Regions from separate parts of the Homo sapiens genome. Here region 1 is linked to region 2. Evidence: fine-mapped expression QTL. A gene starts in region 2. The other region holds a variant in brackets. All regions are shown on one strand. Distances are between the middles of the regions. Region 1 has its middle 33 kb from the start of CAP2. Region 2 holds the start of CAP2 (cyclase associated actin cytoskeleton regulatory protein 2).

Region 1 (2,918 bases), 33 kb before region 2:
AAGATAAAATAGAATTGTATACCTGAAGACGATCGGATTCTTGTGTCCAACCTCACTCTCAATCTAGTGGGGACTCATTCTACTCAATCTACTCTGCACTCATTCACATTTCTACCTTTGCCACAATTATTCTAGGGTACCTAGTGTCAGGATGACTGATACCATTTGGGATACTGATAATAGTGGTGTAGCAATTCCTCTACAACACTTATATACCCTGACAGTAATTTTTGGTACTGTTCAGGAAATAAAAGTCCTCACCTCCTAGGCAGTAAGGACTGGAGCTGTAGAAACATTTTCTGCCCTGGACCTTACCCCACAGTGAAGGCCTTTACTTTGCCCTATACCAGCCACTAATGTCAATGGGAGCTTTTCTGCCAAAGAGTTTCTTCTATGTAGCCCTGGCTCCAAAGTACTGTGCCAAGAATTTATTCTTGTTTTGTTTTGTTTTGTTTTTGAGACAGAGTTTCACTCTCACCCAGACTGAAGTGCAGTGGTGTGATCTTGTCTCACTGCAAGCTCCGCCTCTCAGGTTCAAGTGATTCTCCTGCCTCAGCCTCCTAAGTAGCTGGGACTACAGGTGCCCGCCACCACGCCCAGCTAATTTTTTGTACTTTTTAGTAGAGACGGGGTTTCACTGTGTTAGCCAGGATGGTCTTGATCTCCTGACCTCGTGATCCGCCTGCATTGGCCTCCCATAGTGCTGAGATTACAGGCGTGAGCCACTGTGCACAGCCAAGTATATTCTTAACCCCTCCATCAGATTACTCATGCCAATATTTTCACAGCTTAATTTTTTTAAGCCATAAAAATTGCTACTGGCTACCTTGATTTTGTTGTTGTTGGTGTTGGTGGTGGTGGTGGTTGTGGTGGTGTTATGTTAGGGAGAAAAATGACATGCAAGTGAAAAAGCAAATGGATCCATTGCAGCCTTCATGTTGAGTATGAAATGGGGGAAATTTGTTTCTAGGTGTGTAATGTAGTCAACTCTAAAAATTAATGCAAGTGGTCAGAAGTACGCTAGTAGTTATTTAAGTACTCTCCAGAAAAAAAAATAACTGATTTGCAACCTTGGTGCCCATCAACAGAGGATTAGATAAAGAAAATGTACATATACATCACGGAATACTAAGCAACCGTAAGCAAGAATGAAATCATGCCCTTTACAGCAATATGGATGCAGCTGAAGGCCATTACCCTAAGCAAATTAACACAGGAACAGAAACCAAATACCACATGTTCTCACTCGTAAGTGAGAGTTGAACACTGGGCATACACAGACACAGAGATGGGAACAACAGACACTGGGGACTACTAGACAGGGAGGGAGGGAAGTGGGGACTGAAAAACTACCTACTGGGTACTATGCTCACTCCCTAGGTGATGGGATCAGTCGTGCCTCAAACATCAGCATCACTCAATGTACCAGTGTAACAAACATGCACGTGTACCACTTGAATCTAAAATAAAATTTGCCATTTTTAAAAACTAAGAAAATAAGTGATTTGTAACA[T/C]TTTCCAATTTCTGTGGTAAAAATACTTCCACGGTGGTCAATTTCAAGCTACTAAAATGAACATCGTTGAACTTGGGGTTGAGAAGAGACATGCTAATAGGCCCTTATGAGTCAAGTGAGCCCCCTCAGTTGGAAGTGGGGGCACCAATTTTGGCCGGTACTTAGGGGAAAAAATGCCTATGACATTTGACTCCTGGAGTGAATCATTTTTCATAAAAGATTCTGTAGAGTTATTTAAGGCTGGTTTGGACCTGGCACATTAAAATAAAGCAGTATTTGTTTATTTTTCCTGTCTTCTTGCCAACTATTTTGATCAGCTGTCCAAATTTACTTTCTTTCTAAAAAGTATCTTAAGAATGAGAATTGTATCTATTCTAATATTTATCTTGAAGTGCTTCCCATCATTGTGAAGTTTAATCTGTATTTTTATATCAGGAAGAAACTTTAATAACAAAGCCATGTGGTTGTAAGAAGAAATATAATTTTATATCTTTTTTTTATTTTTTGAGACGGAGTCTTGCTCTTTCACCCAGGCTGGAGTGCAAAATGGCATGATCTAGGCTCACTGCAACCTCCACCTCCCAGGTTCATGCCATTCTCCTGCCTCAGCCTCCCGAGTAGCTGGGATTACAGGCCTGCGCCACCACGTCCCACTAGTTTTTGTCTTTTTAGTAGAGACAGGGTTTCACCATGTTGGTCAGGCTGGTCTCAAACTCCTACCCTCAGGTGATTTGCCCACCTCAGCCTCCCAAAGTGCTGGGATTACAGGTGTGAGCCACCGTGCCCGGCCAATTTTGACTTTAGAATTATTCAAATACCAGTGATACTCCTTCCTCCGTAAATACACACATAGTTTGATCCCATTTAATATAATGACATCTGTTGTTTAAGGTTGATAATAATTTGGAGGTAAAGAAAAGAGTGGCAAAATCTCTTGGCTCAATATTCCATTCCCAACCCCTTCTTCCTTGCCTTCCTGAAAAGAAGCTGGAAAATTAAATTTTCCAAGAATCCTCTGTAGCTAGACTGGACAATTCCATGTTTAACAGGCCTGTCCAATACCATGCAAGTTGAAGCCTACTTAGGGATTATGAGAATGTTTTCCTGGCAAAAAGGAACCGATACAACTGTCAGCATCTTCTCTTTACCTTCTCCTTTTTTTCTGAGTTCAATGTGAGGATAATGCCTAGATCAGTGTCAGCTTAGATCATGGGGCAACTAGCATGATGATAAAAGCTAACACCATAAGATGGCAAATTAGAAAGAGAGATTAGTTGAATCCCGATAACACTGTCAAATCATTGACCATAATAGAGTGTCTACATCTAGACATTTCATTATGTGAAAAAACACCCCTCTTTCCCCTATGTTTTAAACTTTCATTGAAGTATAATTTTTATTTATT
Region 2 (2,918 bases):
AGACTCAACTTTCATGTCCATCAGAAAGTGTTCTCTAATCCCCAGTCTAGAAGCAACCTTCCTTTCTTCTGAACATCCATGGAAATTTGTTCATACTTCTTTTAGAATGTTTTTTACGACATTCCTAGAACTGTGGTTATTTTTATACTCTTCACATCTTCCTACTATATTATCAACCTAAAGACAGGATTTGTGGCTCATCCACTCTTAGACTCCATAATACTTTATACTCCAATAAAAAACAGATGTAGCTAAGGAAATACTGTGCTAATGTTTGTTGAAGTTAGTGCTAAAAAAAAGTCATATGAATGGATGCTTGGAACTTCCCTGTGATCCTGCACACATTGATTCTTATGGATATATATTTTTTCTGCATTTCTGGAACACAAATGTTCTAAATGCATACATACTTCATCCATCCATCCATTCATTCATTATTTAATACAAACATATTGAATGCCCGCCATATGCAAGGTATCCACAGGATAGGGAGGGTGCTGGCTCTGGCTTTATGCAATGTACGCACTCATTGATCAATGTTTATGTCATTTTGTTTCCCTTCTTTCCAGACAAAGGGAAGCAAAGACTCACTGCACCTCATTACTGTCAGCAGAGAGCAATGTGTAATTGGAATGACCTTTGTATAAGTGCTGACCTATGGGGTCAGAATAAGCCTTATAATGTACAGAACCAACTTATGTGCAATTTTAACATCGACAGAGAATATTGGCCTTTAAGAAATTCATCTCATATTTATTGTTTGGAGATTTTACTTTCAGAAGATATCAGTTACATTTCCCCTCTTTTTTTCTCTTTTCTGCAATTATTTTCCTGGCATTCATTCAATAAAGAGCTTCAAGTCACTTTTTTAGACTGAAATAAACTTTGATGAAAATTGAAAATCAATGCTTTCCTTCTAATGACGTTAAGAGAAAAGCCTCCAATTTTGCAATTATAATCAATATATAAAGGGGAAGTGGCCACAAATATGCTGCACATCTTAAGAAGCCAAGTGGGTTTGGTTACTTTAATTTTTAAATAATCAGGACATTTAAAAAGTTGCTGTTTATAAAATACTTTTTAAAAATGTCATCACACGCACTATGAGTGCACTCAGTCTTGATGTCTCGCTAAAGCATTAGCTGTCTAGCTCCTTCTCCTCCCAGAGCCTTTATCCTCATATTGGGTCTGGGGACACACATGCCGTCTCTTGATTCCTAAGGATCCATTACCCATTTCTCTGCACAGATCTTCGGGTATCCAACCTATCTGTGCCTCCTTCAGCCAGGAGCCTCCGGATCTTTCCAGACTTCTTTGCAATACTGCCTCATGCACTGAATCCATTTCTCGCATAGCCTGGCGCTTGGCAGGCAGGCTGGCGTTCCCTGGCTCTGCCTTCCCCATCTCCCTGTCTTTTCTCCCACGGCCCATCTGCCCCTCCTTTCCTCCACCCCCTTCTCCTCTCTGCTCCCCTTTATTTCCACTCCCCACCCGCGTGGCTTTGCTCTCCCTCTCCCCCCTCAGCTCGTCTGTATTTGGAGCTCCGGAAGCTGCCGGCGACTCTCCCCTGGAGCAGCGTGACTGACACCGGCTCCTATTCAGCTGGGAGGAGGGAGAGGGGAGGAGAAGGGGAGGGCCGCGGGAGGAGGGTACGAGTGGCCGACCACGGATTTGCATTGCCGAGGACGGGACCCCAGGGCAGCGAAGCAGGTAATCCTGCAGCGGTCGGGGCCCGGCGAGGCGGGGAGGGGTCGGGGTGCAGGTGCGGGGGGCGCCTGGCGGCGGGCGCTGGCAAGTTGAGCCCGATGGGTGGGGTAGGGAAGCGGCCGGGACGCTGCGGCTGTGGCAGCAGCGCGAGGGGAATAAAGGCGGCGCGGGCGCGGGGGCCGGGGCGCGGCGACCCGGGCGCGGGGCGCGGGCGCGGGCGGACTCCCATCTGGGTCAGCGGAGCGGCGCGCCCTGCCCCCGCCTCCCCAGCTCCGGCGTCCTGGCCGCTCGGAAGGCGGGGTGCGGGCAGGAGCTGCCCGGGGTTGGCGGGCGGCCGCGGCCTCCCCACCCCAGCGCCGCCGCCCGCCCGGCCGCTCTAACTTTGGGGGGTCTCGTCCACCGGGCTGTGAGTCTTCCAGGGGGGTGGGGGTGGGAGTCATTGCGCCGGCTCTGACCAGAGCCACCTCGATCAGAAAGTGCTGGAAAGAAACAGACCTGGCTTCCCCTCTGCAGAACCTGACTTGAGGCGATGAGTCACTTCTAAAAAATGCAGAGGCAACTGAGACTGGGGGAACGGCTCGGAAAAACGGCACCCGCCGCTGGCTCTCTGACTGCTTTGGGTAGAGGGGTGTTCGTGGAAGTAGCCGCCGTATCATCACTTTTAGGGCCAAAAATCAACCTGCAGATGGCCTTTTCTTTATTCTCATCAGAGTGGTGTTCGCTGCAAGTTGTAGCAATATTTGAATGGATGCATTCTTAAAAATGAGTATGTATGGGTGACTGCATTTAGGAAGTTGAACCGGGACTAGGTCCAAACAGCCAGAGTGGAGATGAACACTTGGTAAAAACATCTAGGACCTTTGGTTTTATAGTTATGGAAATGCAGAAGCTTCTGGGACTTGAGCACTGTAGTTTACTGAGTACTCCTATTTCCTTACTGCTTCTGTAGATTTCATTGAAGCTATGTTCCTTAGAATTCTTGGTAAACTATCTAAGCCCACTTAGTGTAAAATTACAACGGTAGAGTGAACTTTAGAGAATTGGATTTATAGTTACTAGAGTCTAATTAGACTGCAAGCCTCTTGAAAGCAAGGATGGGTTGTTTGGTAGTTCCTACGGCACCAAACAGTATTTGGCTCACAGCATGTAATGGATAGACAATAAAAGTGTGTGAAATAGTTAATTCAGTACCTTAAGTGTAGATGGAGCAT

What was found. PIP is the estimated chance that this variant, and not a neighbour inherited with it, causes the effect.
Region 1: its variant is the best candidate, but not a certain one, in a credible set for the expression of CAP2 in tibial nerve (GTEx, PIP 0.52).

Annotation. Positions count from the first base shown.
Region 1 is chr6:17,359,529-17,362,446 of GRCh38, forward strand. No RefSeq gene overlaps it. Among named protein-coding and RNA genes, the nearest start is that of CAP2, 33 kb to the right of the region's middle. The variant T/C (reference allele first, on the strand shown) is at 1,514.
Region 2 is chr6:17,392,037-17,394,954 of GRCh38, forward strand. CAP2 (cyclase associated actin cytoskeleton regulatory protein 2) reads left to right here and starts at 1,559. Exons shown (of 13, transcript NM_006366.3): 1 at 1,559-1,710.